3 separate regions of the Homo sapiens genome follow, and all the other regions are linked to region 1. The links come from fine-mapping of genetic effects on gene expression. A gene starts in region 1. Each other region holds a variant in brackets. All regions are shown on one strand. Distances are between the middles of the regions. Region 1 holds the start of DSTN (destrin, actin depolymerizing factor). Region 2 overlaps RRBP1 (ribosome binding protein 1). Region 3 overlaps BFSP1 (beaded filament structural protein 1).

Evidence for each region. PIP is the estimated chance that this variant, and not a neighbour inherited with it, causes the effect.
Region 2: its variant is fine-mapped to the expression of DSTN in whole blood (INTERVAL, PIP above 0.99).
Region 3: its variant is fine-mapped to the expression of DSTN in whole blood (TOPMed, PIP above 0.99).

What each region holds. Positions count from the first base shown.
Region 1 is chr20:17,566,247-17,574,309 of GRCh38, forward strand. It overlaps DSTN (destrin, actin depolymerizing factor), which reads left to right and starts at 3,829. Exons shown (of 4, transcript NM_006870.4): 1 at 3,829-3,965. The coding sequence starts at 3,963. It also overlaps a transcript of BFSP1 not described here. RefSeq lists an enhancer at 2,792-3,359 and silencers at 3,770-3,959, 3,980-4,269.
Region 2 is chr20:17,645,381-17,653,443 of GRCh38, forward strand. All of the region lies in intron 3 of RRBP1 (ribosome binding protein 1), which reads right to left. Among named protein-coding and RNA genes, the nearest start is that of RRBP1, 33 kb to the right of the region's middle. RefSeq lists enhancers at 2,846-2,935, 3,000-3,703 and silencers at 3,116-3,205, 3,855-3,984, 6,596-6,675. The variant A/G (reference allele first, on the strand shown) is at 3,414.
Region 3 is chr20:17,501,539-17,509,601 of GRCh38, forward strand. It overlaps BFSP1 (beaded filament structural protein 1), which reads right to left. Exons shown (of 8, transcript NM_001195.5): 5 at 7,351-7,458. Among named protein-coding and RNA genes, the nearest start is that of BFSP1, 26 kb to the right of the region's middle. RefSeq lists an enhancer at 2,974-3,497. The variant A/T (reference allele first, on the strand shown) is at 4,109.

The DNA of each region.
Region 1 (8,063 bases):
CAGCAAAGGAGCTTTCCCCAGCCTATCTATTAATACACATCTCTCTTCAGGCTCCTCGTTAATGTATCATTTCTTCTTCCCTGCCGCTTATATTAATGGTTTTAAATTCAAGTGCCTATATGTTCACAGATTAAGTATGCAAAATGTTTTCTAAACGAAATTGAAATATACCAATCTCATATTTAAGGAGAGACCTTATGTGTCTTAGTCTGTTCAGGCTGCTATAGCAGAATACCATAAACTGGGTGGCTTACAAACAACAGCAATTTACTTCTCATAGTTCTGGAGGCTGTGAAGTCCAAGATCAAGTCACCAGCAGATTCAGTGTCTGGTGAGAGCCCACTTCCTGGTTCATAGATGAACCTTTTTGCTGTGTTCTCACAATGGTGGAAGTGGCAAGCAGTAGTCTAGGACCTCTTTTTTTTTGAGACACAGTCTCGCTCTGTTGCCCAGGATGGAGTGCAGTGGCACGATCTCAGCTCACTGCAGCCCCTGCCTCCTGGGTTCAAGCAATTCCCTGCCTCAGCCTCCTGAATAGCTGAGATTACAGGTGCCTGCCACCACGCCTGGCTGATTTTTGTATTTTTAGTAGAGACGGGGTTTCACCATCTTGGCCAGCCTGGTCTTGAACTCCTGACCTCGTGATCCACCTGCCTCAGCCCCCTAAAGTGCTGGGATTACAGGTGTGAGCCACGGTGCCCGGCCTAGGACCTCTTTTATAAGGGCACTAATCCTATTAAAGGGGGCTCTGCTCTCATGGCCTAATCGCTGTCCAAAGGCCCCAACTTCAAATACCATCACATTGGGGATTACCTTTCAGCTTCCGGAGGGCATAAATCTTTATTAGTCTATAGCATTGTATGAAAACTCTTTCCCTCCGTGTGGAGAGGAGGAATGTCAATGTCTAGAAAAGCTGGGTGTTAAATGCAGAGGCTGAAGTTCAGTGGGACCTAAAAAAAATGGGGGCTCATCTTAAGTTATGATAAACTGATATATAAGTTTGATAAATTGTAAAACATCTTCAGATACTGGTTCACTTATTCAATACTTATTAAACACCTACTATGTATCAGGGGCTATGCCAGTTCATACATACGCATCTTAAATACCCCATGACCTCAAGGAACTCCCAGCTATCTGGTAGTAATGGAAAATGCACATAAATAATTACAGAGCTACAGTAATTGTAGGGAAAAAACCATGAAACCTCCTAACTCAAAGTATAGCATCTGCATCTCCTGGGGCCATCTAAGACTCCACCCCTCAACCCCGGAATCTGCAGTTTAACAAGGATCTCAGGTGATTTGGATCTTTATTAAGATTTGAGAGGTGGCCGGGCGCTCGGTGTCTAAGGCCTGTAATCTCAGCACTTTGGGAGGCCAAGGTGGCCAGATCACCTGAGGTCGGGAGTTCAAGACCAGCCTGACCAACACGGAGAAACCTTATCTCTACTAAAAATACAAAATTAGCCGGGTGTGGTGGCGCATGCCTGTAATCCCAGCTACTCGGGAGGTTGAGGCAGGAGAATCGCTTGAACCCGAGAGGCGGAGGTTGCAGTGACCCGAGATCGCACCATTGCACTACAGTCTGGGCAACAAGAGTGAAACTCAGTCTCAAAAAAAAAAAAAAAAGATTTGAGAAGTGATGAACTCTGGGATTATAGAAGGAACTAGGGGGGTGAAGGAGTTGTAAGGGGTACGGGGCACGAAAAAAAAAAAAAGAAGGAACTACTATTGATCCTTGGGAAGTGGTAAGAGAAGTCTTCAGATGCGAAGGGTGATAGGAACATCCCAGGCTGAAAAAATAAGCAGGCCCATGATCAAGGTAGTTAGAACTAGTAAGAGGTGTTCTGGAATGAGAAGTTTCGTCTGGGAGGGGCAGTGGGCACTTAGGAAGATATGGGAGATAGGGCAGAAAAAGTAGGCTGAGGCCAGAGGCAGACGGGCCAGACTGACCTGCTGAGGGTTATGGAGGAAGCCACAGCAAATTTTAAGCAAGAATGTAACAAGACCAGTCTTATGTTTGGACCTAACTCTGGTGGCAGAGTGGAGGACGAAATGCAGGAGAGGCTGGAGCAAGCAGGCAGGCATGTATCCTTAAATGAGCACCATTCACTTTTGGACTAGAAAGGAAGTCTGAATATTAAGAAGTGTAAGGGCCACAGGGTCCTAGGCAGGCAGAAAAGCAAAGGGTTCCAGCTGCAGGAGGATACAGGGGGGTTCCTTCTCAGTTCAGGAGTGTGGTCTCGGACTGGCATCTTCAGCATCACCTAGGAGTTGTTAGAAATGCCCATTCTCAAGCATCATCTTAGAAGCAGTGAGGGAACCTTGGGGATGGGGCACACAAATCTAGCTTTGAACAACTTTTCCAGGTGATTCTGATGCATGCTAAAGAACCACTGCTCTAGCCCGCCAAAAATCATGTCTCAGGTGGTAAAGGCTTAGAACTGCACAACTTACTGTCTTTTTTAAAAAGAACGAGGGTAATGAGAAATGGGTTCCTATGTTGAGTGGGGCAGAACAAAAGCCACATACAACCTAGATTTTACGTAGTGCCGGAAAAAAAAATACTGACCATCTTGTCCAAAAGTCTCATATTTGGAGAATTAAAATAGTTTTGGTCGAGGCCATGATGTTCTCGGTAACCTAAATTAATTTATAAAATTCTTTGTTCCCTTTATTTCCCACAAAAACACCCGCAGCAAAAACGCTGGGATTCATCTGGGCCCTCTGAAAACCGTGTTTCCGACGCAACCGCCCATTAGAAAAACACAATTCCAAATTAAAAACCCGGAGAACTGAGCGGCGGGGCTGGCGCCACCGTCCCGGGACAGCGCGGCCTTTCCCAGCCACACCCCTGCGCGCCGCCGGCCTCCTTCCCCGGCAGTTCCCAAAGATAAATAAATGCTCCTTGTTTTTCCAGACCTGAAATTAACGGTGACTCACAGAGCACTCTGCATGGCCACGGTCGCCTCGGGAAGGAGGAAAAATGTGCAGACTTTTTTCCCCTCACGCGAGGGCAGGACAAGCCAGACTGGGCCAATCAGGGGAGGGCGGCGGGAATCGCACCAAAGTAGGTAAAAAATGCGGGAGGCGTCCCCGCTGCCGCGGCCCGCGACTCCGCTCCCGTGGGTCCTCCCCCAGTGCGTTCCCCCTCCTCGGGCCCTGCCCTCCCAACCCCCAACATCTCTCTCCTTCCACCACTGTGTCCCTCTCCCTCACCTCTCCCCTTGCCCCCACCTCCCCCACTAAGTGCCCCCTCGCCCCTCCCCCCACATCCCCCTCCTCTCCCCACACTGTCCCCTCTCCCTCACCTCTTCCCTCCCCTCTCCATCCTCCTCCTCCCCCAACTATGTGCCCCTCGCCTCTCCCCTCCAAATCCCCCTCCTTCCCACACTCTGTACCCCTCTCCCCCGGCTCTCCCCTCCTTTTCCCCTCCACGGCCTCGCCCCGCCCCAGCGGCAGGCACACCTGGCCAGGTGGCTGCCTCCCCGCGCGGGCCATGCCTGCACAGTGGGTGGGGCGTCAGGTGGCCCCGCCGAGGAGGCGAAGGAAGGCCACCCCTCCCCCATCATCTTTTGCCCGCCCCTCGCCAGCAGGAGCCAGCCCAGTCCGCCTTCTAGCCTCCTGCAGACCAGAGAGGACGCACCCCCACCCCTAAACACTTTCTGGTGAGGCGGACCCTGCCCCGCAGCCTTCAGCAGATGAGGGAAGCTCCCCTCCGAGACTCTGGATAGCCGCCGGGGGGGCGTTGCCTGGCCGGCTGGTTGCGTAGCAACGGCAGGCGGTGCGTGACGTGCGCAGCCGCGTTCCGTCCTGAGGCGCGCCCGCCCCGGGGTAAGCTCGCGCCGCCGCGTCAGCTCAGCGCTGGGTCTCTCGGTCCCGCAGCCGTGAGGAGGACGGTCTGCATACTCGCTGCCCGCCGGCTCCCTCCCCCGCGTCCCTGCGACCGCCGCGGCGAAGATGGTGAGTAGGAGGGAGGCCGAGGCGTGGGCCGAGGCGGCCGGGAGCAGTGTGTCTCTGGGGCGCCGCGGAGTCGGGGCTAAGGGGGTGAGCCGTGCCTCAGCCCGGGGAGGGACCCGGTCCGGCTGCAGTGTCCGGGCTGCGGGTGAGGGGGGGTCTCTGGGCCTCCGTCTCCCGCCGTCCTGGCTGGGCCCCCGCGCCCCGGGGTGGATCCGCGGCTGTTGCGCAGCTCCCAGCTGGGGCGAGGCCGCCGCCCTGAGCGTGGCCTCTGCGGGTGTCTCCAGACCCGGCCTTGCAACAACTGGCTGGGGTCGAGCGCCCCCACCCGCTCTGTGAAATCCATCCGGGGGTCTGCACACCGAGGCCGGGGAGTGGGGGGCGGGGGGCGTCGGAATCCGGCCACCGTCCTTGTTGGCGTGGGTTTCCCCAGAGCTGGCGCTGAGGCGCTTGGTGACTTGTGCGCGTTCCAGCCCTTGAGGTCTGTCCATCTCAATAAGGAAGATAAAGCCTTTATGGAACAGTCCTAGAGCACGGAATGATCGCTAACGAGCAGGATCCTGGCATGATTTAGAACGGGGTGGCCTTGCAGCTCCTTTGTTTTTTTCTTTTTATCTGGCAATCGGCTTCCAGCAGCACTCTCGTCGTGCTTGTCAAGCTTGGCAGTGTCTGTTTTAACCCTTCCCTGCCCGATCTGTCCGTGTATGGTTAGAATTTTTTTTCTGACCTGTAGACAGTTGGACTCTGCCAGAACTTGGTGCGCAAGGTGTGGGCATGATGCTGGGATGCTGATACAACCAAATTTAAGAGCTTTAAAAACCATTAAAATACTGGAGTCACCAGAAAGTAAACAGGTGCTCATTAGTATATTCTATATGATGGACATTTTGCTTAATTTACATATTTTCCCCCTTTACACTGTCACTCTAATTAGCTATTTAAAAACGTATTCTCAACTGAACTATCAGTTGGAACATTTTGTCGTTTTCGTTAGTGTGCACACACTGTTACCATTTTTGGTCAGTGATTTGCAGGCGTAGCCTTACCAGACTTTGCTAGAAATATTACACTGTAATTGCATCTGTCTAGAAGCAGTTGGTACCAGCTTATCTGCATACAAACTGTTTTCACTGTATAACAGTTTTGGTTTTCTTAAGTTACTACAACTTCCGTGAACATGCAGGCGGCCCCTTAGTGAAAGAAAAGATAAACCGGTAGTTTCTTGATGACTGTAGATATGTATGTAATAGGGATTTGATACTGTTCAGTTTTTGGTTCTTCTTTGGTTTAATGCTGTAAGCTACAAAGTATCAGCATCTTGAGTCTTTTTAATATCTAATTATTAGAAATTTAATAACATTTTAAATGTATATGCTACTTTATACTGAAAGACTTAATCTAGGGGCTTTGAGTTATGGTACGCTTAAGACCATTCACTCTGTGAAAGTGCTTTGAAGCTGACTAGGGTCTGCTCTAGAGACTTCTGATTTGACATTATGCTTTTTTATTGAGTGGCTAATACAGACTTTATTTTTCTGTTTGAAAATAAGAGACCAAACATTTTACCTTTAGTTAAATGCTTAGTTTTAGTTAAAGCTTAACTAAATTCAAGGAAGGAAGGGTCTGTTATATTTCCTGGTTCTTGTGAGGAGTGGGAGAAATAAAAATTAGAAATGAGCGATTTCCAAATACGCTTCAAAATTGTTGGCTTTAGGGAGATCAAGAAGACCTTACAAGTTACTCTTAGAGTTCAGATTATAGACCCCCCATTTTTAAAGGTTATTTTTGTTTTTAGCCTTATGAGCGCAGGAGCATCTTTGTTTAGTTCAGTGATTAGAGAATATTGTGGGTATTATCCCAGAGTCTAGCACTTTGCTTTTAGCTCTTTTGGTTAGATGCTTGGTTCCAAGTTTCTTTTAAGATTAAATTTTAACTACCGATGGGTTTGTTCTAAATTAGCAGAATCACTTCCTTGTACTCACCAAGTCTTTTAGAAGCACCTGAAATAAAGCAGTTTGAAACCAGCTGGGCGCTTCAGGATGAGATTAGATGTTTTCAGATGTCTCCTCCAACAAAAAACAAACAACGTCTGCCTCCACGTGAACCACAATTACAGACCCCAAACAAAACGTGTGTGTGTGTGTACTGGGTGTGCCAGCCTCCTTATACAGAGATTGTTTAGTAGCCCATCATCAAGTTACTAAGGTTATTTGCTCAGTAGTTCTACTGGATATGGATTGAGACATCACACCTAGACTTGCCTAGCTCCTCTTGTAACCAGAGTATCTTTTATGCTTCTTGGAAAGTAAGAGTGTAGTCTTGCCCCTGAAGTAGAGTTAAAAGGTTTGCACGATAATCTAACCCTTAACCTTATCCTAATCTGGACTGTGGTCTCACAGACTGAACTAATTGGCGCAGTATTCAAGTATTCTAATACTTGGTGATTAGCAAAAACACTACAACCCAGTGAAATAGGTTGGGCATGTATTCACATGCCTATTTAACATATGAGAAAACAGATTGTAAAGGATTAATTGACTTGAGACAAATCACCTTTTCCAACTCCAAGTTTTAAAATAATAATTTTGAAACATTTTAAGCAGAAAAGTACACAGAATAACAGATCCTTTTGTACAGGAAAAACAGGGCTATCTTATTGCCATATTTCAGGTTTTTATGTTATCATTACAGCTAAATATGCATCATCTTCCTCATCCCACTCCCTTCCCTCCCTAGAGTTATAACCATTCCTGTGTCAAAGACATAATATCCTGGCTGGTTAAGGAGATGATTTTATTCAGGCTATTGCAATTAGGAGAGCATTCCTGATTGCCTTATTTGAAAATATGCAACAGGCCAGTTCTTTGCAGTTACCTGTTTCCCAGAACACAAAACGGTGGGGTGGATTAACCATCACTGCTTTCTGAGAACACAGAGCTCAGGTAAAGTTCACAGTAGTCACCTGAAATTGATATTCATTGATAGTTCCATACTTTTAGCTACTTAATCATTCATATGTATTGCCTTGATGTGCTTTTAAAACTTACGTAAATACTGTGCTTCATGTATCCTTTTGCAGCTCTGTGAGAAAAAATTAAACTTTGTGGGGGTGGTTTTTTTTTTCCCAGGGGAGGGCAGCTTTTGGATTTATTTGTAGCTTTGGTTCTTCAACTGCTGAATTGTGTTCTTTTGTATGATTGTGCAAGTTTATCCATTCCCCTGTTGATAGACATTCAGCCATTTCCTAATTTTTTGCCTTTTTTTGGTCTATTTAAAGTTTTTATAATAGGCAATTTCCATGTCATATATTGCTATATATTACTTCTCTAGCCCCAGTGTGTATCTCTCCATGGTGTATATCTAGAAGCGGAAGCCCTGGATTGGAGCATACATATTTTCTACTCTACTACTGGTTCGTTCTGGTTGTATCTCATCATTAACAGCTTGTTTCTACATTGCCTTTCACCACTTAATAAGAGACTTGAAACCTTTGCCAGTCTGATGGTTGTGAAATGGTTTCTCATTATTTTATTTTGCATTTCTTTGATTACTAGTGAGCTGACTCTTTTCATATGTTTATTGCATCTTAGGTTTTTACACGCATGCTGCATCCTGCAAACCTGGCCATTCTGTAAATACTTACCATCTTCACCTAAGCTTATTTGCAGAGCCATAAAGTAAATGTAGCAGTAAAAAAAAAAAAAAAAAAATCAGCTGGATACAGTGGCCTATACCTGTCATCCCAGCACGTTGGGAGGTTGAGGCAGGAGGATTGCTTGAAGCCAGGAGTTGGAGACCAGCCTGGACAATATAGTGAGACCTTGTCTGAACAAAAAAATTAAATAAAAATTAACTGGGCATGCTGGCATGTGCCTATACTCCTAGCTATTTGGGGGACTGAGGTGGGAGTATTGCTTGAGCCTGGGTGTTAGAGGCTTCTGTGAGCTATGATTGTACTACTGCACTCCAGCCTGGCCACAGCGGGAGACCCTGTCTCAAAAAACAAGAACATGATTATCAATACCAGAACCTCATACTGAGGAGTAATATTTCTCTTTTCTGGCACATAAATTTCTTTCCAGGCCCCTTAGCCAGCTAATTACC
Region 2 (8,063 bases), 79 kb after region 1:
ACTTGCAACACGCGAAACAAACGCAAAGCTGCGTACAGCAAAATGTTAACGCTCTCCTCTGCCACCTCTCATGGCCCCCCAGAAACTTCCACAGCCTTTGCCACACTCATACAAACACTACCTTTTATACTGTTTTTAGAGAGCTATAACTTTACAAATCATTTTTCATTAAATCTTTTAGGTAAAAACTCTGCTGTCTCAATTGTCCCCAAATCAAGGGCAGCACAACTGAAAGAAAAAAGGAAAGCCCTCAGAAGCAGAGGCAGGATTTCTGGGCCTCCAGATGAGTTGCATTTAAATAACGTACTAACGGGAGCCTAAGGCGTGCCCAGCACATCACTTAGGGCTCCAGCAAATACTCGAAGATACCAGTAATCTTCCGAATTGTGAAATCTTAACGCACTAAACTAAGTCTCTCAGACTCAACACCTAGTCTGTGAAATCACAGACTTCAAAAGGCCCAGGGTGCAGTGAATGCTGGAAAAGCTCAGCTCCCTGAGGGCTTGCTCCTGCGGCTAACGCTTTGCCCATCTTGGTGGGTATGAAATACCAGGAAGGGACAGGCCAGGAGGCCTGGGGAGTGACCAGGGAGCAGGAGACCCAAGAGTAGAGACGCAGGCCAGTGTCTCACTTTGATGGATAATCCAGACCTCTGTCTGGCAGGGGACACAGCAACACCCCAGGGGCCAGGCCCTGCAGGAATGGGACAGGTACTGTGACAAATAACCACACAGGCCTGGGCTCAGGGGGGTGGCCTCTCCTGAGCTGGGTGGTCCTGGGCACGGCACTTCACCTCCAGGTGATAGCTGCAATGGGGGAATCTGAGCCAGAACCCTCAAAGCCACAGGCCTGCCCAAGAGCCTGGAAACGAGATTTTTAAGTGCTATCTTCTCATCTTTACTGCTGACAGCTAACTCAATAAAAAACAAATAAATGAATGAAACCACTGTACAGATGAACAAACACATCCGTGGGCCACGTCCAGTCTGCAGGTCACCTCTGTCCTTGGGCAGTGGGGCACCAAGGTCAGAGCAAGGCCTCTGGGACCAGGTGGCCTGGAGTCGAATCCCAGCTCAGCTCCTTCCCACCTTTGTCCTTGGACAAGTGGCTTAACCTTCCTTTGCTTCTGTTTCCTTGCCTACAAAACGGGGATGATCATTGTTCCCCTCACAGCGTGGCTGAAAAGAGTAAGTTGCAACGTGCTTGGAACCATGCCTGGCGCAGGGTAACGCACAGCAAAATAAATCAGCATGGCCGGCCTTCAAGCAGCTCACAGCAGCTCAGATAACGCACCTCACACCCCAAATTTCAAAATGACTCTCCCTTCTGCGACCACACTGGGAGGCTCAGGCACCTAAAATTAAACTCATCTGGCAAAGAGGCACTTAGTGTTCTCTCTCACTGTCAACTGTGGCGTCCTTGGATGAGGCTTTTCTCTCTGTATAATTTCCAGGATCCCCCATGGCCAGGGCTCAGGCATAGAAGGAGGATCTCAGCCCTAAGTGGCCTCATGAGACTCAGCGGCCAGCCCCCCACATCAGCTGCTGGAGCACCCCTGCACTGTGCACACCTGGCTCTCTCAGTCCACGGGGAGGGTATCAGAACCACTCCAGGAACTGCCGCCTGAGCCCTGGCAGCAGCTGGTGGTTAATAGGAGGGGATTATCGCCTTGGCCCTGGGATGGGCCCCACAAAAGGCTCCGGCTCAGCTCCAGCTGCTGCTACAGGTGCCCAGCAGCCCTGATCAGGGCAGGCAGGGCCAGGTGGTCTCTAGACACAAAGTATGTACCACCTGCATACCCAGCAGTTCGTAAATTGCTGGGCCTGGAAAGTTAAGTTATAGGTTGGGCTGTGGCCAACAGAGGCAGAGGACACAGGGCCATAAGGCAGAAGAGTGACACAAGGGGGACCTGGAGAACAATTGTGGCAGCAATGCCGAGAAAGGCTTTAAGGCATTGGGCCAAGCATAGCTGGGTAAGGACACGGTGAGGGGCTTTGGGCCCTAGCGTGTCAGACTTGCACCCGAGGTTGGACTAGGTCCAAGTCTTCATAGGCCCTGGGAATCTGGATTTTATTCTGTAGGCAACAAGCGATGCCTAGGAAGGAGCGTTTGAATTTGAGAAAAAGATTTCAGGATGCCCAGGGGGATGCGGCTGGAAGCAGGCAGACCAGCTGGCCTGGACCCTGGTCCTAAGAGCCTATCCCCGCTGGGTCCTAAGAGCCCAGGACCAGGATCTGGGCCCGAGTATTCAGGAAGCTGAGCTGGTGGGAGAGAGGCCCAGGTGTCAACCCAGGGACTCTGGCAATGGAACCTGAAACAGCATGGACTTGAGGGCTTGGGGAAGAACTCCAGTGGCAAAAACTCTCATTTCCTAAGAGATTGTCCAGATCAGTTCTGAGGGTGCCTCCCTCAGACACACACATGTAGTCTGAATAGCTGCTGCCTCCGGGCCTGCACGGGGTGACTCCAGACAGTGCAGACCAAGGCACCCAGCATGGCTGCCCAAGCCAGATCGCAATCTTGGCGTGCCTTCCACGCCCTGTAGTCCCCAGTCACCCGACCCAAACTCAGGTCTGCTGTAAGAAGGTGAAGACCCTGGGGCCCCAGGAAAGGGCTCCCACATGCCTCCTGGAAGCCCAGCACCACGCAAGCAGTCATCAGCCTCTGCAGACCAAGATTCAGAGGCTGAGGACAAGCTCCCCATTCCTGCTGACCCAAAGCCAAGGGCATCTCTGTCTCTCTCAACCTGAGGAGCCGGCTCCCTTCAGGGTCCCACCCCGAGGTGGGACGCAAGACGCTCTCTAGGGAGGAGCTCCGGCCAACATCACTGCTGGCCTCTAACTGCTCGTTCTTGGACTGTGGCCGTGAAGGCTCCTCCTGAGCCTGTGGGGGAAGTGAGCTTTATGAGACCCTGGAGGAAATGAAGATCTACCAAATGCTCCTGGAGGCAAACTGCGACTCCTGCTCTCACTCATTGCTCATCTGCCCACAGCTGAGGCAGGCCCTGGGCAGTGCACAAACAGTGGACTCCAGGCCCAGCTCAGGCCACAGAGCCCGGCCTTGCCCAAGCGCTGCTCAGCGCTCCTGACAGGAAGCAGGCCAAGGAGGCGCAGCTGCACTTGACCCCAAATGCCACGAACGGTCACATCCGCAGCTTTAAGGGCAATGGAGCTCAGTACAAATAATGTCAAGAACAACCCAATTCAGGGCCTTTCAATCAGTCCTTTTCCTTTAGTTGGAGAAAAACGTAATCGGCTACAAACTTGGGGACTGGTATATTTAATGGTATCTAATGGAATTTAAAATATCCTATAGATTGAAGAACTGTTTTCCTCTTTAAAGTTTTGTTTTTTCCTCCAAATTTCAACAAAACCAATTTTATACCTGGAGTTAAAAAAAACCCACATCACAAT[A/G]TTTTTAAAAGAACGACAATTCCTGGAGGACCTCTGGGCAAGGCCCTTCCCAAGGCACACAGGCTGGCCCAAGGAGAATACAGTTTAAACAGCAATTAGGACTCTACCTAATGCCTGCAGAAAACGGCAGGGGATTTTTAATCCCAGGCTGTCTGACCACAGCCGTCTGGGGGCAGTGACCGGAGTCCCAGCCTCAACACGTTTTCAAGTGGCTGAAAAGAGATTTCTGGAAGAGTGTCATCTAGCAGCTTCTCACACTGATACTTGGCTCGCTTCCCTAGGGGATGTTTTTGTTCTTCTTTAAAAAAAGAAGAAGAAAAGAAAAAGTTGGGTTTGAAGAACTTCCACAGAAAGTGAATAAAGGGTCATAAGCCCCAGAGAGTTTTCTTCAGAGCTTCAGACCCTGAGAAACTGAGTTAGGTTCAAAAGAAAAAGTATCTGACTTGATCTCCGTGTACACCTCTCTGTGCAACTGCCGGCGAGAAGGGCACAGGGGCACCTGCCGGGCAGGGCGGGGGCCTCGGGAGGGGCTGCCCACACCGGCCGCTCTGCCATCTGCTGGTCATGTGCATGACTTCTGGGAAGTCTGAGCTTTGCTTTCTGCTTCTGTCAAACAGGTAAAAATTCAAATCCACCTTAGAGAATTGCACGAGGGATAAAGGCATGGAAACCAGCCTCCTAAACTGCACATCTGAACAAACACCTGGCTGGGGAGAGCAGTGGCGTCAGACCTGCTGTGCTAAGCAGCGCTGGGTTTGGAGCAAAGCAGGCTACACATGGGGAGGACAGGCGTGGGTGGGTGGGTGGGTGAGGAGCTGGGAGCAAGGGGTGTTCCCATCACGAAGTCAAATTGTTTAAGGGCCCTGCTACCCTAGACACCTTGAATACCGTTTCCTGGGGGCTTGACAACTCTTCCCCATACCCCCTGACCTGTGACCCCAGCCCCATTAGATTGCAGAACACGACTTGGGATTTTAGGTTACATTTCCTATTGTAGGGGTAGAATGGGGGCTCAGCGAGACTGCACACGACACAGAGCTCACAGGCCCCCTCCCACCACGGCACTGCCAGGCTCCAGAATGTGGGAACTGCCTTTAACTTCCCACCTTACCTCAGTTCATGAATGCCTCCCAGATGCCTGTGTGCTAGGGCTGGGACACGCACTGGCCTCCTTCTGGAGGCCTCAGAAGAGCTGGCACTACCTTTCCTCATTCCAGACCCCAAAAGGAGCAACGTGTTCCTTGCTGCTCCTCAGAGGACACAGGGCTGCCTCAAAACACCCAGAAGGATGAGAGTTCCATCAGCTTTGGTATAATGAGGGCCTGTTTATTTGACTTAGAGACACATAATGGAGTTGTTTCTTCTCCATAAAAAAAAAAAAGTTATAGAAAAACTGGAAAATGCAGAAGGGTGAAAGGAAGATACTAACATTTACCCATAATCCTACCTCCCAAAGGTGGCCTCTTTTTCCCACATGGACTTATCTGACAACGTGGCAAGAATGGGCCTCTGAAATGCCTGTTTCTGAGTGTTTGCCACCTCATGGAGGTTGGGTGGGTTCTCCTGGGCCATGACACAATGGTCTCTCTGGCCACAGAGTAAAACTGGCTTGCATCAGCAGGCTGGGGAAAGAGGGCCCCGCAGAAAGCAGGCCCACAGCCAAGACAGAAGTGCCATGTCCCCAGGGTTACCCACCCCCGTCCATTAGGCAGAAAGGTCACAGGTCCTTGGGTGAGCTCCAGACTCCCCAAGAGTGCAACAAGTACCCTGCATCCCCGCATCCCCTGAGTGACGTGCTAGCAGAGGTAATGAGGAAACACCTGTTTCCAACCAGCAGCAACAATGAGTGAAGCAAGCTCCAGTTAAAAGTACACTGTTCTGGAGCTCATGCTAACTGTGGGGTCTTCAGAATGTACATATGTACTTCCTCAGTCTACGCCCACACTGTAGGATCCAGACTTGATTCCAGGTGCTGGGTGGGACAGCTCTCCTGCCAGTGTAACACCCAGATGGTGATTAGTACAAGATCAGGGCAGCCCAGGTGGGAGGCAAACCAGCATAATCCTGCAAACAAAGACTCAATCTGAGGATAAAAATAGATTTTTTTAAAAACCAACACCACTGCATACACACACGTCTTGTGTTAGAAACTTGACTTTCCTAATAGACACTGTGCATAGGTGCTCAGTTAACTATCGGAGAACAAACCAGCTAAAGCCTGGACACGTGCGTCAGCTGACAGTACCCGGAACACGGGGAAGCTTCCATTCTGGGGAATTTCCACTTCTCGAGGATCCCATCAATTTCCTCCTCTCCAAATATTTAGTAAAGAATTTGTGCCTTTCATTTCCAAAGAAAGAGGCTTTCTCCTTATCCCACGTCTGGGTTTATAATGCTCCCTGCTCCCCAAACTTCCTGAAGTTAGAATCATTCCCAGAGTAGCACAGCAGCACCGTGTGAGGAGTGCTGAGTCAGAAAACAAATCTTGTGGGCCTCTCATCGTAAATTGTGAAACGTTTCTGGAAAGCAATGCAGCACTGTCTTCCTAAATTAAAAACGTACCCACCTTTTGACTTGACAATTACTTATCTAGGACTTTATTTTGTAGAGACACACAACAGTGTATGTACATCATTGCAGCATTAATTTTAGCTGCAAAATAGCTGCACACTACTTAAATGTCATTTAAATAAATTACAATACAGTCATGCTAGGGAATATTATGCAGCTGAATGTGGCAGTTTCGCAGGTGCAATACGGAAAGATGTCACCAACACACTGTTAAGCAGACAGCAGTGTGCACTGCAGCTCCCGTTTGTGGGTGCCCATGTGAAGAGCACAATGAATTTACCCCCCCGCCCCTCCACCCCCGGGAAGCGGATGGTGATTGGGATGGAGCAAAAAGACTTTCTATTTTCACCTTCCATGCCTCCATACTGTGAATTTTGTTTGCTGGAAACACATATTTATGTAATAATAAATTGTAAAAGGCAAGGATTAGGAAGGCAGGTGTTCTCTGTCAAATACAGCCATGGACAAGTGGTAAAAACCCGCTGCAGGGCCCCCATCTGCTCTTGGAGGAAAATCAGAGCAGAAGTTCTGGAAGAGCTCCAGCCTGGGTCTGCAAAAGCATGTCCTGGGCCTACCACTCCTGCCAGGTCTCCCTCTGGGGCACCTGTCAGCAGGGGGCCCTGCTGGACCAGCCAGGTAACAGGTAGGGCTAGGAAGACTGAAGAAGCACTTCAAGTCTCTGGTGGAGCCCAGCTCCAGTACTGGTTTTGCTGCTAATCTGTCCTGTGCTATGGGCCAGCCACAGCCTCTGTGCAACACCAACACAGGTCTGCACAGACCGGCTAGTGATCCAAGAGGCCACCTCCTTTCAGAAGGTCCTGTTTAGAGCACTGCTGTGCAAAACTTTCTGCTCTGACTGAGATGATCTGTCTCTGCACTGTGTAAAGGGAGCCACTAGCCACATGTGACTAGTAGGCACTTGGAATGTGGCTAGTGTGACTGAGGAATGGAATCTTTAATTTTATTTACTTCTGACTGATTTAGGTGATAATTTAAATGCTCCCATGTGACCAGTGCCTCCCATATGGGACAGCACAGCCCTAGGCCCTACACCTCCCCTGCCCAAGTCAAGGCCTCCTGGACTCATGGGAGGAGTTCCCGTCCTGGCCTGCTCCACACCGGTGATCTAGAACCCACTGCCAAGCACCTCCCAGATCCCCGCAGCACAGCCCTCATGCCACCTCACCCCTCCCACCCAACACACTCACACCCACAGGTCCCTGTGTTTCTAGATGCCCAGGGCCAGTCAGCCCACCCGGAGTTCTGCCTACAGTTGCCTCAGGTTGGGCACACATGACCCCCAGAGAAGCTGGAGTGGGCAGGCCCCAGACTGACAGGAAGCTCAGCCCCAGCAGAGGGGCAACGAGGCACAAGGCAGCCAGTGGGGGCCGCCGCAGCCTTTCCAACAAAGGGAGGAACCCACGGTCTAACGTGTCTCATCCGGGCTTGCTCACCAGGCAACATGGTCACAGCCGCCAATGTTAAGTGGAAATCCAAATAATTCTGGAACATGAAAACTCCACATATAAGACGTAGCAAGGGTGAAACCAATTCCACAAGCCACTGGTGAAAACCCATGCTGTGGACTCACAGATTTCTGCCTCATACCCTCGGGCACCACAGCTCATGGCTAACTGAAAACCAAGAAAATCATCCGAGGGCACAGAGACAAGGTGGGAAATCACTGCAAGTGATGAAGTGTGCCCGGAGCAGAGAAGGGCCTTTGCAAGGCAAAACGGCCAAGCATCCAGAGAGCGCCACCGACAACTGACTGCAGTGGTGGGAATTCTGCCAGATGCAGCTACATGCCCACCGTGCCCAGCGCGCCCTCGGGCTCTCCCCTGTGTTCGTGTTATTTGTGTGTGGGAAAAGCAGACTAACTGTGAGGAGAGGTGCACACTTCACTGAGCCCACCCAGGGCCTCTGTCCTTTACAGTCAGAGCTGCAAAGCAGCTGGGAGCTATGCAGACAGACCTTCTTGCACACGCCACCTGGCAGTGGCTTAGGGGTTGGGCCCCCCACCCATGCTGTTAGTAAGAAGATGGTAGCCACAAATGAATCAAGAAATGTCCCTGGAGC
Region 3 (8,063 bases), 65 kb before region 1:
GAGCACCCCAGACTGGGTGACAGAGCACCCCAGACTGGGTGACAGAGCGAGACTCTGTCAAAAAAAAAAAAAAAAGCAGGTGTTCAGCCATAGATCTGTTGCATTAGAAGGGAGGAGGAAGGGAAGAAAAGGTACGTGTGCTAAGCACTTTGGGGAGATGTCTGTCCAGTCCACGTTGTCCCTGTGTCTGATGTCAGCCCCACCCATCCAAAGGCACGGTCCCAGCAACAAGATGACCCCACTCTCCTGTGCAGAGTTATAGGACCAGGGGTGGGCCTGACCTAGGCTGGCCTGTCACATGCCTTCTCTCCTGGGAATCTGGAAAGGGGTCTCAGAAATCGCAGAGTTGGTGGGAGGTTCTAGACAACAGGGACACATGAACGGGTCTGAGGCTGCCGCTCTGGAGTGGCGAGCTTTCATGTGCATGGCAAAGTTGAGAAAGGTAATTATTTGGAGAGGAAAAGAAATGAAGCCGAAAGGCAAAGACAAACAGAAATTAGGGAGCCATGGCAAGAGAAGGAAGAGATGGAAAAGGAGACGGAGAGCGGCTGCCTCAGCTCCCAGTTCCTGGTTCCTGATTCCTGATGCACACCTGCTCTCAGATTTCATGCCCTGCCTTTTATACCCTGCTCCTTTGGAAAAAAAAAAAAATAGTACCTTTCCGGTGGAGAAAACTGGCAGACAGCACCTTAACCAAGTGATCAGAGTTATTGTCACCTGTATGAGGACACAGCCACATAACGAAATACTCAGGACACAGCGTCACTCCATGGGGGTCTTGCCAAGAATGCAGAACCTCCATCTAATCCTGAGAAAACATCAGGGAAACCCAAAAGGAGAGACATGCCACAAAGCCACTGGTCTGGGTTCTTCCAAAGCATCACGGTCATGGAAGACAGAGAAAGACTGGGGACCATCCCAGTATGGGGGAGACAATCAAGACATGACACCTAAATGTGAGTAGGATCTCGACCAGGAAAAAACACGCGTGGAGCAACTGGTGAGATTTTAGTGCAGTCTATTAATGCGACAGGATCACTGTTAATTTCCAGGTTTTTATCATCGGCCCGTGGTTTTGTGGAAGTTGGGTGAGGGGTATATATTGGAAGCTACTGTGCTGTTTTTGCAACTTTTCAAAAATCTAAAATTACTTCTGAATAAAACAAGAGTCCCCTTCCTGTTTCAGCTAGTGTGATCCAGTTTCTGTTTCTCCCAAGAAATCTGGATTCAAACAGTCGCCTGTAATAGCAAATACAAGTCAGACACACTAACGCCTGGTGCAGCCACATCTCACCCACACCAGAGTGTTCAGACACTCCAGGAAACACTTTCAAGGAATATGGGGATTGAAAAGACCCCTTTGAGCCCCAAATCTCAAAGAAGTGTTGGAATTACATGGTGAGGGAAGTGTGTGGGGCTGTAGAGAACATAGAGGGGCCATGTGTTGAGGGATGGGGCGGGAGGGCTCATGAGACAGACTATTCTCACTTTTAATTTTTGAGACAGGCAGGGTCTCACTCTATTGCCCAGGCTGGAGTGCAGTGCTGCCATCAGGACTCCCTGAAGCCTCCACATCCTGGGCTCAAGTGGTCCCCACACCTTTGTCTCCTCAGTAGCTGAGACCACAGGTGAATGCCACCATGCCCAGCCAATTAAAAAAAAATTTTTTTTTGTAGAGACAAGGTCTAATTATGTTGCCTAGGCTGGTCTTGAACTTCTGGGCTGAAGTGATCCTCCCACCTTGGCCTCCCAAAGTACTAGGATTACAGGCGTGAGCCATAGCACCTATAATCTCTCACTTTTCTATGTTTGAAATCTTCCATAATAAAGAGTAAAAGAAAAAATTACATATGAAGAGAATGTACCCCAGATCACTGACCCAAGAGCTCTGGGGTGGCCGTTCCTTTTGGGTGTGGGTTCCCCAGCCCAGAGCGGGGGTAGTGGCTCATGCTGATAAGTCCTAAGCTGGGTCAACTCATCAACCTCACAACAACCTTATCAGGGAAGGGCTGTCATTATTTCCACTTTACAGATGAGGAAACTGGGGCACACTGGCAAAGTGGCTTGCCCATAAATACCACAGCAGGATTCGAATCTACCTGAACAAGGTCTGAAACACCTCCCAGAACCAGGCCACCCTTGCCCTGCACCTCAGCCTCCTCCCTGCTGCAGGCAACAATATGCAAGCACACACGTGCGTGCACACACACACACTCTGTCTCCAGGGCCCCTGCAAACTCCCCATTCCCACACAGCAACAGGCCAACACCAGCCTGTTCTCTCTGAAGACATGGGAAAGTCAGTGTGAGCCATGCAGAGACCTCTCCTTGCAGGTTTTCACTTAGCAAAGTTTTAAACTGTAAATAGAACCACAAAGCATCACAGAATGGGAAATGAGAGCCCAGGAAAGTCACCTGTGATCTTTCTACCCTACAAGTGGAGTGCAATCTTTTTATGTCTCAGGAAGTGGTGATTGTTGTTTTTGTGGTAGTGGTAGGGGGTGGAGGGATGGGGTGTTTTCTTGGGTGTGCATTTGTGTTTGTTTGAAGAAGGCTGCATGTTTTAAAGGCTGGAGATCCTCTGCTGGAACACTGCGGGAGGAGCTCCTGTCCTGGGCGCCCCCACAGCCCCCATCCCCCACATGACCATGAGGCCCAGAGCCCTCCAACTCCGTACTGGTCGCAGATGCTCTACGGGATTCTGCTGAGTCCAGTGAAGTGATGACTTGGTTTATAAAAGTGGACTGATGTCTATACCGATGTGGTTTTTACAGCTCCATAATTTAAACCTTTCATCAGAAGGAAGAGTGTTCAGGAAAACCAGTAAGAGCTCCTGTCTCAGGAGCTCAACAGGAATGGAGATGCCTGTGACGAGAGCCACTGTGGCACGGCGTCCACTGCCACCCAGCACCAGCCTGGCCGAGGAGAATGAGACACGGACCCTCCTCTAGAAGGCCGCAGTCCAGCAGGGGAGGCACGCCCAGGGCATCTCAGAGGAAGAAAGGGGCTTCCAGGAGGAGGCAGGACCGGTCCTGGGAACCGAGGAAGGAAAGGGACTTCCAGAAAGGAGAGAAGGAATGAGCAAAGGGGAGGTCCCAGAAACTGCAGGAGGGGTCAGGAGACGAAGAGAAGAGAGGTTGGCCCAGGGTTCCTCCAACGGTGGGGCCATGTGGCAACCTGAACTTTATCCGGAGCCAGGTGACTGCTGTTTCTGCCTGGACCGTTAGATTGCCTGGTTTATATCTGTCTCCCCACTGGGCTGTGAGCCGCTGAGGGCACGACACAGGCAGGAGCCTGACGCGAGCCCCATCTGGAGGGGTGAGCTCTCACCTCAGTCCTTAGGACCCCAGACACCTTTAGGTGTAAGGTTTTTTTTTTGTTTTTGTTTTTGTTTTTGTTTTGTCTTAAAAAAAAAAAAAAGGAAACTCATTACATACTGTCTTACACAAACTAAACCACTAGATGGTGCTAAGTGACTTTAATGAGAAATGAGACATGGGCGGTTCCCACTTTGCAATTTTAAAAAGTGACTTTCTTTACTTCCCTGTCACAGAAACTCTCAGTCCATGCAATTTAGGGAACTAGAATTACCTGTCCTTTCCTCTCCACCTGTCCGAAGTGCTTCCTCCGGGGCTCTTACGGGTATATGTGCACTTATTTGAAGGAGAGGCTTCCAGCTTCCAGCTCCAAGCCCAGGCACTATTCTCCCATCGTCCGCCCAGCGTCTCCCAGACTGAGCCCGCAGAGCCACGTGGAGGGCTTAAACAAGGCGCACCGGCCCGCCCCAGAGCTCCTGGGTCAGTGGTCTGGGGTGCCTGTGAATCTGCATTTCTGACAAGTTCCCAGGTGGTGCCCCCGCTGCTGGGACGGGGACCTCACCCTGACGACCCCTGCTGTGGAGAGTTCGGGAAGCTTCGGACGCCCTAACCATAGGCGGAACCCGCTGCCACGGCCCTGGTGCTAGCAGACGCTCTCTCTCGGCCCGCCCTCCACCGAGTTCCGGCCACAGAGCGGGCCCTGCCCGGCGGTGTGCGGCCACATCTTCCTTCAGCTCTAGCTTAGCTGCTACATTGGGAAGCCACTAAAACCTTTAAAACCAGCAAAAACCC[A/T]GCCACAAACATTTGAAATGAGGCCCAAGCCTGGGACACAGGGGGACCAGGTGGAACATTCGCCCACTCCCTGGGACCCGCCCTTACCCTGTGGTTCTCAGTGTGGCTCCTGGACCAGCCGCAGCACCATCACAGGGACACCTAGACATGCAGCATCCCGGGCCACACCCCAGACCCACTGAGTCAGGAGCTCCCGGGCGCACCCAGCCACGTCTGGGTTTTCATCAGAGCTAAGGAGGCAGAATTTTGGCCCCCGTGACCTTTTCCCCTTGGTGCTACACCCTTGAATATGTTACATGGCAAAAAGGGACTTTGCAGATATAATTAAAGTTCTTAATCAGTTACCCTTTTTTAAGGAAAGGAGTTTATTCAAGATTATCCCCTAAAAACAGAAGTCAGAGAAACGTGTAAGTCCAAGTCATTGAGATGAGACGCAGGAAGAGGGTTCAGAGTTCGCTGCCGGCTCCGAACGTGGAGGGGCCTGAAGCCAAGGAGCCTGGGCAGCCCTGACAGCCACTCCTGGCCAGCAGCCGGCAAAGAAACAGGGTCCTCACTCCTGCCAAGAACTTGAATGAGACTGGAAGCAAATTCTCCCCTAACAGCCTCTGGACAAGGGCCCAGGCTGGCCAACATCTTTCTTTCTACCTTTTGAGACCCAGAGCAGAGAAACCGATAGGACCCACCCAGACTTCCCACCTACACAACTGCGATGACACGGGTGCTGGTGGTGACTCATCAAGGCAGCAACAGAAAATGGACACAGCCGTGTTTCATCAGCTACATGCTATAGCTTGTTACTGAGTGAGTATAAGCACATCTGTCATTTTATTTAAAATGATTCAGTAATATTTTGATAACTGTTTTAATATAATTAGTTTCTTTTTTTTTTTTTTTGGAAACGGGGTCTCATTCTGTTGCCCAGGCTGGAGTGCAGTGGCTCAGTCTCAGCTCACTGCAGCCTCAACCTCTCCAGGCTCAGGCAGTCCTCCCATGTCAGCTTCCTAAGTAGCTGGAACCACAGGCACGCACCACCACGCCCAGCTAATTTTTGTATTTTTTGTAGAGGTGGGGTTTCGTCATGTGGCCCAGGCTGGTCTCAAATTCCTGGACTCGAGCAGTCCACTCACCTTGCCCTCCCAAAGTGCTGGCATTACAGGCGTGAGCCACCACACCCAGCCTGGTTTCCTTTAAATTATCTGTATTTTATTTTATGCCTTTACCATCATTTTTCTGAGAAGCGGTCTCCATCAGAATGCCACGGGTGGGAGTGGAGGAGGCAGCACAGAAGAGATGTTTGAGACCCTGCTTTAGAGACGAGGGCAGCAGGGAAAAGCCAGGAAGTCCTCCTGCAGCCACTCAGGACAGAAACAGGCGGCCAACCAGCGGTTTCATTTCATGTTCTCAGAAACCAGGTTAATCTGTTGTGAAATTTCTTATTTTGATATTCAACAAATACCTGTACATAAAGAGAGGAACATTCTTTTTGTCCTGGAACTGGAATTTGCCATCTAGGCTGGGCTCCTTCATCTTTCTCAGTATCTCTAGGGCAGTGGTTTTCAACTTTATCACCACCGCCCCAGGAAAAACCACATTTCTCATTGCGAGCCATACACATCAGATAGGTAGGTGTGTGTGTGTGTGTGTGTGTGTGTGTGTGTGTATTTCAACATATCCATATGGATATAGAGAGATAAAACAAGGGCTTCACAAAACAAATCCTCCCTTTCACTTGCTGTACACTCTGTTTTTCTTATTATATTTTAGTCTAGCATTTTGTTGACTTCCTTTTACATGCCAGTCAATTCTACTGAGTTCATTTTACATCCAAAAATGAGTTGTCACTAGCCATTTGGAAAACACTGGTCTCTAGGACCACGACTGGGCTTGTATCCACGTCCCTATTCACATACACAGCACACACACATACACATGACACACACACACCACACACACTTCACATACACATCCCACATATATCACACATACCATGTATATCACACACACACACCCCATGTACACAAACACATACAACCCTTATTCTATCCTGTCAGAGCCTCAGAAGAAACCACACAGGCCCCAGTCACCAGGATGAGGCACATGGTCCCTGAGCCAGGGTTTGTCTCACAAGAAGGAGGAGTTTTAAGTGCCTTACTTGGTTCCTCCTGCTGCGATCGTCAGTTCAGGGGACCACCACAGACCCGGGTTTGCTTTCCAGCAGCCCCTGAGAGCTGCTGCACTGTGAGTTTTGTGTGGTGCGTGCTGGGATGGGAATTAGGATGTGAACTCCAAGGTCCCAAAATGAAATCCTGAGCAGACATGGGGGCACTGGAAATCAATAAAAAGCGCTACATCTAGTTGTGGCTTCACATTTTTAGACAGAGTAACACATAACATCCAAATGGTCCAGGCTTTCTGAAGTGTCCGATTTTTACACGTTTTGCTCTCTTGTCCCCATGTGTACTTGTCAAACCAAATGTCAACTTACTTTTTGGTTTGGGAAATGTGGTTAGAGAGCCATACAAAGGTGCAGTATTTTAACCCAAGCGTCCCTGTGGAATGACCTGCTGTAGGGTAATGAGAAAGAGAGAGAACCGGAAGGAACAAAGAAGATGAGCCGGCAAGTAGCCAAGAAGGCACAGGCCACAGGACAGTTTGGGGCTTTTCTGTTTTGTTTTCAAATTAAGCTTCACCCAAAAGGGGTGGGGGTAGAAATGTGAGCTTTCCACCAACACGTTTCTAACTAGAAGCAAACACTGATACAACCACTCTTGCCGGGTTGTAATCAAATTCCGAAGGAGAACTGTTACCATGAGAAGGAAAACAGAAGCACAGATTTGAACAAGTGGAGGATAAAAATCCCTATGGTGTCCGTTTCTTCTTATTCTTACGAAGCTTGACCTGGGCAAAATGAATGCATGATGTAGACACTGGGGCAGCCTAAGCCTAAGACTCGGTGGGGAGGGCATGACTCGAAGGAGTCCCAAGGGGCACCTCTGAGGGGCCAGGAATGAGCGTGGCACCTGTGTCCCCCAGCTCAGGACTCTCCCTGTGTCCTGGAAAACTCCTCAGTCCAGGCCAGAGCAGAGCGCTTGGCCACCCACTCAGAAAACCCCGTTTCTGCCAGGAACATAGGATATGTTCAGCGTGTGACAGCTCCTCAAGCTGCATGCGTGTGCCTGCGCGTAACACCTCCATGAAACATGTGGGAAGCCCCAATGCACACGCGGCAGACTCGAGCGTACCTGTGCCTGCAGCTCCACTCTCTGCGCCTGCAGGTGGGAGAGCACCTCCCGGCCCTCCTCCAGCTGACTCCGCAGGGCGGCCACCTCCCGCTCCGTCAGGAGCTTCTCCTGCACAGAGAAGGCCAGAGTCAGACTCATGGGACATGCAGAGAGGAAAAGGGCAGAGAAGGTGCGGGGCCCTGGTATGGACGGAATATCCGTGTCCCCCTGAATTCTGTGTTGAAGCCCTAACTAACTCCCAAGATGAAGGTTTTAGGAGACCTTTGGAAGGTGTTAGGGTTAGATGAGGTCATGAGGATGGGGGGCCCCATCATGTGATTAGGGTCTTTGTAAGAACAAGAAGAGACACCAGAGCCCCCACCCCCACCCCCTGTCTGTCTGTCACGTGAGACACAGCAAGAAGGCAGCCGTCTTCAAGCCAGAAAGAGAGCCCTCACCAGACACCAATTCTGCTGGCATCTTGATCTTGGACTTCCAGCACCCAGGACAGTGAGAAGTAAATGTCTGCCTGTCGGCCCTCCCATCTGTAGTGTCCTGTTATAGTAGCCTGAGAAGACTAAGCCAGGCCCACAGCACAGCCATCAATGCCTTTTGCTTTGTCTTCAAAGTCTGAACCTCCTTGGGAGTGTGACATGCCGGGACCAAGTACCAGGAGACCAGAGCTTAGACCTGGCTGTGCCATGAACCTACTAAGAGACTCTAGAAAAGGATTT